Linked DNA regions of Homo sapiens: region 2 is linked to region 1. The links come from fine-mapping of genetic effects on gene expression. Tissue or cell type: visceral fat. Region 1 holds a variant in brackets; the other region holds the start of a gene. All regions are shown on one strand. Distances are between the middles of the regions.

Region 1 (5,225 bases):
GGAAGGTCGTGCTCACAGAGTTTTCTAATGGATGTGGTCAGCGAGGGGAAGGCAAGACCAAGGATGAAGCCAGAATGTTCCCCTGAGCACCTGGAGGGAAGGAGCGGTGTCCATAGAGGACTTCAGAGGGGAGGCTTTCAGGGGCGATAATTCTGAGAATCTCCCTTACATCCAAATGGGAACAGAACAGAGACAGCTGAATGCAAATGCCTGGAGTTCAGGAGAGGGGTCCAAGCTGAAGATGTTTCAATGCACAGCTGGAGTAGTGATGACCACAGATGAGGTAAGGAAGGGGTGAAGACAGGCAGAGAGGAGGACACACATTTGTCATTGGTGCTTTCATGACAACATATGTTATCTTCAATCTTTTTGATAATAGTCACCCTAACAGGTATGAGGTGATGTCTCATTGTGGTTTTGATTTGCATTTCCCTGATGACTGGTGATGTTGATCATTTTTTCTCTGCCTGTTGACCATTTCTGTGTCTTTGGGGAACTCGCCATTCAAGTCCATCATGCCTTTTCAAATCAGATTATTTGTTTTCTTGCTGTTGAACTCAACTTGTTTGAGTTCCTTATATATTCTGAATATTAACCTTTTACCACATGTGTGGTTTGCAAATATCTCCTCCCTTTCCATAAGTAGTCTGTTCACTCTTTTGTGATTGTTTCTTTTGCCATGCAGAAACAAACTAAAACAACTTTTTAGTTTGATGAAATTCCATTTATCTATTATTGCCTTTGTTGCCTGTGGTTTGGTGGTGTTAACTTAAACATCACACAATTACCAATTTGGAAGAAAGAGCTTTATTTCTTATAAAGGATTACAGCCTGCAAGGTGGCCATCCAGACAGGCTGGGAAGCAGAGCCTGCAGAAGAGGCTCAGAGACAAGCACTTTAAGGGAGGGAGGAGAAAGACAGGAATTTAAGCTGAATGGGCTGGCCAAGTATACATATTCAACAGGTTACAGAAGGAGCTTTGAATATTCATGAAAGGGTTTTGACCCAAGCATATTGAACAAACACGCATGTTACATGTAATCCATGTTCACCTTAGGGTAGAGACTTACCATGTAAACGTATTACAATTAGGCCCTATATGTCAAAAGGTCTTTGGAGGACACAGCAGCCCTCAAGCGCGCAGCCTCTGTAAAACCTGCCATAACCAGTCCATGCTCCATGTTCTTATCAAGAGAAAGTTACTGAAATCAGTCTTTTGTCCAGTCACAAGGGTGTGGGGTCAGTGTCTGCTGGTGAGCTGTATATTGTTTTAATATTACTTATATTGAGACCAGTGCTTGCTTAGCTACCAGAGAAAAATAAACATATTGTGGCAGTTAGAACATAGTTTATTCTCTAAGTGTGGGGGTGTGTAATTTAACCCCTGCCTGGCATGGCCTTAGGTTTTGTATATGATTTGGTATCTCATTGCCACAGAGTCTGTTCTGCCAGTCTTATGATCTCCATTTCCATATTAAGGTTAATCAGTTGCTGCATCTCAACTGCAAAAGGAAGGGGCTATAATGAGGTGTGTCTGACCTCTCGTCCCATTGTAGCAGCAACTCAGTTTTTAAGATTTTTCTGGGGTCCCCTTGGCCAAGAGGGGGTCTGTTCAGTTGATTACAGGGCTTAGGATTTTATTTTTAGTTTACAGTATCTAAAAAAATCTGAGCCCAGATAATGTCAAGAAGCTTTTTCTCCTGTTTTCTTCAAGGAGTTTTACAGTTTCAGGCCTTACATTTCCATCTTTAATCCATATTGAGTTGATTTTGTTTACGTCTGAGATAACTGGCAATGGCAGCTTTGATGAACATGTGTGAAAGGGTGGGGGACTTGATTGGAAGCTCGTTTGGAAAATAACCGAAGAAAGGAAGGTAGGAAGAGTGACGACAAACAACCTCTTGAGGAGTTTTGCTGCAAATGTTACCCACCCTTGGAGGGGTGAGTTGGCCCTAGTGGGTCCTTTCTCTGCCCCCTGCCACTTACGCCAATAGAATGAGACCAGAATCGGCAAAGCGGAGAAGAAACTTTATTCATTGATCAAGAAATGGAGAAAGGGAGTTCATGTGCAAAGCACCTTCTCCCAGGGGTTGGTAAAAGGGGATCTTAAGGGCCCTTAGGGCAGGTAGTTGGAGACTGAGGCGGGCAGATCTGGAAAAAGGTGGGTTCCTTCAGGAGGGGCTGAAGTGTGCACACTCTTGTGTTTTCTTTTGTACTTGGCACCTTCTGTGCCTAGCAAGGCATAGTTCTCGCCCCTGAGTGGAGATTTTAGTATGGTAATGAAGCAAGAAATCAGGTCAAGGCCTGCACTGAGGCAGGAATCCAGGTCCAGGCAGCACGTCTGGGCTGAACTCATCCCCTGGCTGGTTCCTGTTGCTGGCTCCCAGCCTTTGTTTCTGGCAGCAAGCAGAGCTGCAAGCACAGGTTAGTTTCACAGGTTTTGGGGCTTCCTGAGAGAACTGAGGTCATGTTGCAGAAACACAAAAAGGAACAGAGAAATGGATCTGGAGAAGAAGAATTTTTCTCAGTTCTTACCCACAATCTCCCAGAGGTGCTCAAATTCATAGACAAAGAAAGTAGAAAGTTGGTTGCCATGGGTTGGGGGCAGGATGGGATAGGAAGTTATCATTTAGTTGGTATAGAGTTTCAATTTGGCAAGATGAAGAAATTTCTGGAGATCAATGATTAATAATTGCATAAGAGTGTGAATGTACTTAGTGCCACTTACCTGTGCACTGAAAAATGGTTAAAATTGTAATTTTTTAATGTATATTTTAACACAAATTTTAAAAAGCACTAAATATTTGATCAGCCTCCTC[G/A]CCAAATAAGAAAAACTGATGGCAAATAATCACATGAAAGCATTCTCAACACCATTTGCTGCTACGAAATCACAGATTAGAACCAGAATGAGGTAGCAGTACATACCTATTAGAATGGCTACAAAACAAAACCCAAAGAAATTTTTTTTTAAATCCGGATAATACCAAATGTTAATGAAAACGTAGAGCAACCAGAACTCATATATTCTGCTGGTGGGAATGTAAAATGGTACACCCACTTTGGAGAACAGTTTGGCAATTTCTTATAAATTCGAACTTACACATATGACCAAGCACCCGACTCCTAGGTATTTACCCAAGAGAAATAAAAAAACTAGTGTCCACACACAGAAATCTGCATGTGAATATTTATACTAGTTTTACTTTACAGTCACCAAAACCTAAAAACAATATGAATGTTCACCAGCCAGTAAATGTATACAAAATGGGGATCTATGAAAACAGTGAGGTATGAGTCAGCAATTTAAAAACAACACCCCATCACATGGACGAGCCCCAAATGCATTAAACCAAGTGAATGAATCCAGATTTTAAAGGCTACATTTTGAATGATTCCGTTTATATGACATTCTTTAAAAGGCATATCAGTAGGGTAGAGAATAGATTAGTGTTTTTACAGGAATTAAATAGGGAGGGACAGTTGCCTACCAAGGAACATCAGGAGGGAATGTTTTAAGTAATGGCACTTGGTAGTGTCTTGACTGTGGTTGTGGGTATATAGCTACATACATCTGTCAAACCTCAAATAATTGCATATGAGAAATACTCAGTTGATGAAATTGATGGTACCTAAATTCAAAATACACTAGAGATGACACTACGCTCTCACTAGAATTGTTAAAATATAAAGACTGACAATACCAAGTGTTAATAAAGGTGTACAGCTACCGGAATTCTGGTGCATGGCTGGGAGTAGTGGTAAAAGTCAAAGCCATTTGGATAACGATTCTGCAATTCCTACAAAAATTAAATATGCAGGTATTATTTGAACTAAAAATTCCACATCTTGTGTATAAATGAGTATAAAAACATGTCTATAAAAAGACTTCTACTTGGATACCTATAGAAAAAACCTGGAAAATCTTAAACGTCTATCAATAGGTGAGTAAATAAAAGATAATACTACTTAGCAATAACACATTGTGAACTACAGGCATATACAACAGCTTGGCTCAGTTTCAAAAAATGATTGCTGAGTGACAGAATACAGACACAATTTTTTAGTATATTTCTAGGAAATTCTCAAGTAGACAAACTAACTCACCATGACAGCGGGTATATTGATGATTTCCCAGCATACGCGATGGGAATGGTGAGCTGCAAAGAAACATGGAAAACCATTAGAGTGGAAGAAGTGTTGTGTATCTTGACTGTGGCAGTCACAGCGGGGCTGCATACACTTATCAAAACTCACTGAAATGAACATTTCAGGTGTGTGCATTTTATTTCATGTAAATTATGCCTAATAAAGTTCACTAAATACATCCAGTGAAATTCACATCTTCATATTTAACATTCTGACCCATAAATACAATATAATTTGCTTTACTATTAAGACCAAATTATTGCATTCCTATTATGTGCTACATTCTTATTTTTAGAAGAACTTACAAGGTATTATGTTACTTATTAAAGACTCAATTCCTTATATATTAAGAATGCAAATGGCTGTCTACATTAGCAAGGACAAATGAACATTTACCTAGATAATACTGTTACAAAGATTTTACTAATATATGGTACCAAATATTATTATGCCCTGGATTTTGAGGATTTGCCAGATGAGATGGAAAATCATGTCACTGAACCTAAAATTATTTTTATCTATAAACAGAATGGGCCAGGACATTTAGTTGTGTGCTTGTCAGGAAGGTGATAGCTGGGTACAGTCAAATCTGTGCCACAGGATCTAGGAAGGCAGATTTCCAAATCTCACATAAGAGATCAGCACGATCACATTGTCTGAGATTTTTTTTTTTTTTTTTTTTTTTTTTTTTTTTGAGACAGAATCTAGCTCTGTTGCCCAGGCTGGAGTGCGTTGGTGTGATCTCGGCTCACTGCAAGCTCTGCCTCCCGGGTTCATGCCATTCTCCTGCCTCAGCTTCCTGAGTAGCTGGGACTACAGGTGCCCGCCACCACACCCGGCTAATTTTTTTGTATTTTCAGTAGAGACAGGGTTTCACTGTGTTAGCCAGGATGGTCTCGATCTCCTGACCTCGTGATCCACCCGCCTCAGCCTCCCAAAGTGCTGGAATTACAGGCTTGAGCCACAGCGCCTGGCCTGTCTGAGACTTCTGACAAACAAGAGGGAGCAAGAGGGTTAGGAAACCTGTGAAAAACTAAATTCCAACAAGACAATTAATGCCCAAACAAGCAACTCACGAA
Region 2 (5,225 bases), 21 kb before region 1:
GAATTAAAAGTTGGATAAAGGGCAGAATAAGTAAAAGCAGAGAGCAGAAGCAAGGTGAGGGGACGGGTGAGCAAGAAGCAAGAGGCAGAAGTTGAGCAGCCAAAACAAAAAGTAAGATAGAGAAGTGAGCAAGGACACCCGTGGCCAGCAGGATCTGGACCAAACCAGTAAGGGGCAGTTCTTCAGAGCTATGCATGTGCATTAGAGAGAAAAAGTATCCTTAACATGACCCTGTATGATAATCAGCTCATTAAAGTTCATGCATATGGACTGCATATTATCCATGTACTTAAAATTATGGGATGGGTCAAAGTAACTAAGCAACATACTTAACCATCAAAAAGGCAGGCACTGGCCAGGCGCGGTGGCTCACGCCTGTAATCCCAGCACTTTGGGAGGCCAAGGTGGGCGGATCACTTGAGGTCAGGAATTCAGGACCAGCCTGGCCAACCTGGTGAAACCCCATCTCTACTAAAAATACAAAAATTAGCCAGGCATGGTGGCGGGCGCCTGTAGTCCCAGCTACCAGGGAGGCAGAGGCAGAAGAATCGCTTCAACCCAAAAGGTTGAGGTTGCAGTGAGCCAAGATTGTGCCACTGCACTCAAGCTTGGGTGACTTCGTCCCCACCTCACCACCACCCCTTCCCCCCGAAAAAAGGCAGACACTGGATAGAGATTTGGCAGCCTTGGGAAGCGAAGAAAAACAAAAAAACAAACAAACAAACATAAAAAGACCCAAAGTAATGCTGATCTCACCTCATAGAGATCAGTTCGCTCTCCCTCTCCAAGAGTGTGATACTGTGCTTAATAAACTGCTGCTTCTTGCTTTGCTGTCTGTGTGTGTCTCATCCAATTCTTTGTTTAAGACACCAAGAGCCTGGAACTGCATGGCACCATCCGGTAACACTTCTGCCCACTGAGATACTGCAAATATCCTTATGGGGAGAGAGTGGCTGGGCAAGGAGGAGGCGCCCAGGAGGCAGATTGGTCTGCAGGATGAGATACTAGCTGCAAATGCAGGGATTGGAGGTGAGGGCGGGGAGTGGCTTCGGACGCCCAAACCCAGCATCTTCCTCTCTCAATCGTTACAGCCAAATGATCTCTAGGTTATGGACAATTAGGGGACAGTGTGGGCTGAGCAGATCAATGCAGTTGTATGGAAGAAAACAGACTGGGATTTTCTATGTATACAACATCTTCAGGAAAACCTACGTGAAGTTAGAATTTTCAAGGCAGCATGTGCCGATGATAAAACTACATAGAACAGCAGGAAGACTATTATCATTAAAGTGAGGCTAGGGGCTCCTTCAGGAGGGAGCGGGGGCATGGCCAATAGGAAAGGGGAATGTAAGGGTGAATGAATTAATAAAATCTCTTTCTTCATTTCAAGGGACAGACTTGACAGTTCTTTTGTGTTCTAGTTCTTCAAGGGTGCTTATTTTGTGTGAATCACTGAGTTGGTTTTTAGGGGACACTTTTATGTACATGTCTTGTGTTTCTCCCCGCTCAAAAAAAACTGTTTCAAGAAAAGCTGGCCTGGATCTAAGGGGGCTGCAGCTTGCAGGATTTTTCCCACTTCCTCCCAGCCCAGTCACACAGTTTAAAATAATCTTCTGTTGAAGTCAGGTGCGTGTTTCTTCTCTCAGAAAATCGCGCCCATCACTGAGGGTGGACGCCCCGGGGCTGGTGTCTTTGCTCCACGTCTCCTGTTCACCTGAACCCCTAGGAGCAGTTCCTGCAGGAGCAAAGCCCCAGGGCCAGCAGACCCCTCACACTCTGCACTAACCAGGCCTCATGAGATAGCAGTGGTGAAGGGAAATGTCCTTGTGCTCAGAGAGCTGTGAGGATGGGAATAGTGTCTGCTCTTTTCATATTGATCCTTTCCCTTATGACTTTCCTGTCTACCAAGCCCCACAATACAACAATCACAGCCTCAGCTTCCCCGGCCTCCTGCAGGCTGGGCTCCCCTCCGTGTCCTTGGCGTGTATCAACAGGCGCAATCCTCACCTTCACAGCCCCATGTCCGTCTGCTCGGTCCTCCTGAGACTGAACCCCCGACCTAGGGGAGAGTGACCCCACCCTGCCTGTGCCCCCCACTGAAGCTCCTGTCATGGGGAGCTCAAACGTCAGGAGACTCAGTGTCTCCCCACCACACAGTGACTCCTTGGGGACAGTGTCCGGCTCTGCTGTGTTGACCTCATTGTGCAGAAAGGGGGTGCCCACCTCGTGGCTGCTGAGGGAGGGATGAGAGGCTGCCTGTTCACCCCACCTGCACCCCTGTCTCTCATGGCCCCGAGTCCCACTTCTGAGCTACGCAGACATCCACAGCCTGTGACTCAGGGGTCTGGGCAGATGGGAGTTATTTTCACCCTGCAGAAAATATCACCTAAAGGGAAAGGCATTGAGAGGGAGGCAGGAGGTGGGGTGGGCCCTGCATGGGGTGGGAATCTGGGTGAGTCTGTCTCCCGCTCTGGCCTCAGGGACCCAGGAGTGAATGTCGGGTGGTGGACGGTGGATCTCCCAGGGCTGACCCAGCCCTGACAGTGTCTGTGTGTGAAGTTCTTCTTCTAAGGAGGTCACTGTTTTGACCTCACCACCGACTTCCTGTAGGGCCTCTTCTAAGTCTTGAGCCCGCAGTTCCTGAGAGAAGAACCCTGAGGAACAGACGTTCCCTCGCGGCCCTGGCACCTCCAACCCCAGATATGCTGCTGCTGCTGCTGCTGCCCCTGCTCTGGGGGAGGGAGAGGGTGGAAGGACAGAAGAGTAACCGGAAGGATTACTCGCTGACGATGCAGAGTTCCGTGACCGTGCAAGAGGGCATGTGTGTCCATGTGCGCTGCTCCTTCTCCTACCCAGTGGACAGCCAGACTGACTCTGACCCAGTTCATGGCTACTGGTTCCGGGCAGGGAATGATATAAGCTGGAAGGCTCCAGTGGCCACAAACAACCCAGCTTGGGCAGTGCAGGAGGAAACTCGGGACCGATTCCACCTCCTTGGGGACCCACAGACCAAAAATTGCACCCTGAGCATCAGAGATGCCAGAATGAGTGATGCGGGGAGATACTTCTTTCGTATGGAGAAAGGAAATATAAAATGGAATTATAAATATGACCAGCTCTCTGTGAACGTGACAGGTAAGGCACGGGCTCCAAGAGAGGCCAAAGGCAAATGTGATGAGGGCTTTAGGGCACGGCTGAGACGGGACACATGTCCTGGGAGGGGGCCGGGGGTGATGGACTCAGGAGAGGAGCTGGACCAGAGCCTGAGCTTCCCCAGGACCGCACCTTGGATGCCCCTCCTGATCCTGCAGGCCCCTCCCCTCACCAGCCCTGACCCACAGGCCTGACATCCTCATCCTGCCTCTGACGCTGGCATTGTGGCATGTGGGGCCTTATGACTCCTTGTTTTGGGGCCTGTCCTAGGCATGGCCGGGGTTTAGCACCATCCCAGGCCTCTCCCCACCAGATGCCAGAAGCACCCACTCCACCCATGCAGTGAGACAATAACAATTATCTCCACACATTGTTAAACGTCCTGGGGGGTTAAGTCCTCCCCAGTTGAGAGCCTTAGGTCTACACAACCCCGTGACTCTCTCAGGCCAGGCCAGGGAGGAAGCACTTCCTGGCGCAAACCAAGGGCAGCAGAGGCACCTGAGCCTGGACAGGGAGACTCAGCACACGGCCCCTCCATCTCTCATGCCCTGAGGTCCTCGGAGATCCACATTTAGATGCTCAAAAGACAGGAGGGACCTCCACGATGGTCCAGAGGCCGGGAGGGCAGGACCTACGTGTCTGGTGCAGGCCCTGGTGCTCCAGGGAAGCCCGGAGGTAGGAGGTGGGACACGGTCTCTTCTCCTCCCTGGGTGGGTCTCTAGGGTCTCTGAGCTTCAGGGTTTCCTTCACTCTGTGCAGAGGGAACCAGTTCCTATAGCATGTGGGTTTGTAGTTTCTCTTTCGTGCTGGGTTGAGGTCTCCAGCTCCTCTCCAGCCCCTCTCCAGCCCCCTGTGGGTCCCACAGCCCTGCCCCTCCTCTCCCTCCCACTTCTCTGCTCACACAAGGAGCCCAGGAACCCTCTGTCTCAGAGATGCTGCTGCCTCTCTTGTGGGCAAATGAAGAGAGGGACAGTCGGGGCTGGGCTGAGCCTCATTTCCCCACAGCGTCCCAGGCCCCACTGTCAAGATACAGGCTGGAGGTGCTGGAGTTGGTGATGGTGCAGGAGGGCTAGTGCGTCTCTGTGCCCTGCAGTGTCCTTTAACCCTATTACAACTGAACTGACTCTAGCCCTGTCCATGGATGCTGGTTTAAGAAAGGGATCAATATACAATGGAATAATCCAGTGGCCACAAACATCCCAAATGGAAAAGTGCAGGAGACACGGGGCCGATTCCACCTCCTTGGGGACCTGAAGACCAACAACTGCTCCCTGAGCATCAGAGATGCCAGGAAGGGGGATTTGAGGAACTACTACTTCCAGGTGGAGAGAGGACAGATAAGATGGAATTACAAAACGAAGCAGCTCTCTGTGAATGTGACAGATAAGGCACAGGCTCCAGGAGACACCACAGGGAAAGGTCATGGGGGTGGCAGCGAAAGCCTGGGATGGGGCCCCTGCCCTGGGAGAGGGCTGAGGGTGAAGCGAGTTGGGCTCAGGGCAGAAGCTGAACCAGAGCCTGAGCTTCCCCCAGGGCTGTACCATGGATCCTCTGTCCTGATCCTGAGTCCCCCTCTCTTCACCAGCCTTGACCCACAGGCCCAACATCCTTATCCCCGGTACCCTGGAGTCTGGCTGCTTCCAGAATCTGACCTGCTCTGTGCCCTGGGCCTGTGAGCAGGGGACGCCCCCTATGATCTCCTGGATGGGGACCTCTGTGTCCCCCCTGCACCCCTCCACCACCCGCTCCTCAGTGCTCACCCTCATCCCACAGCCCCAGCACCACGGCACCAGCCTCACCTGTCAGGTGACCTTGCCTGGGGCCGGCGTGACCACGAACAGGACCATCCAACTCAATGTGTCCTGTGAGTGCTGAGCCAGGACGCCCTGGTCCCTGATGAGGGGGGGACGTCCCTGAGGGCAGAGGATGGGGTCAGGGCTCGACACTGGGTGCTGGGTCCCAGAATCTGGGCTGGTTGTGGGATCAGGAGGACGCTGGCTCCGCCTTCCCCATTTATGCAGCTCCTGGGGAGACAGGGCCAGTGTCCCCAGCCCTCACAGTGATGCAGGTCT

Evidence for each region. PIP is the estimated chance that this variant, and not a neighbour inherited with it, causes the effect.
Region 2: SIGLEC7 starts here. The variant in region 1 is fine-mapped to the expression of SIGLEC7 in visceral fat (GTEx, PIP above 0.99).

The regions. Positions count from the first base shown.
Region 1 is chr19:51,161,117-51,166,341 of GRCh38, forward strand. LOC101928517 (a long non-coding RNA gene) reads right to left here. Exons shown (of 5, transcript NR_110732.1): 2 at 4,105-4,157. Among named protein-coding and RNA genes, the nearest start is that of SIGLEC7, 21 kb to the left of the region's middle. The variant G/A (reference allele first, on the strand shown) is at 2,820.
Region 2 is chr19:51,139,668-51,144,892 of GRCh38, forward strand. SIGLEC7 (sialic acid binding Ig like lectin 7) reads left to right here and starts at 2,634. Exons shown (of 7, transcript NM_014385.4): 1 at 2,634-3,135; 2 at 4,739-5,017. The coding sequence starts at 2,703. It overlaps LOC124904749 (a long non-coding RNA gene), which reads right to left and starts at 843. Exons shown (of 3, transcript XR_007067310.1): 1 at 757-843.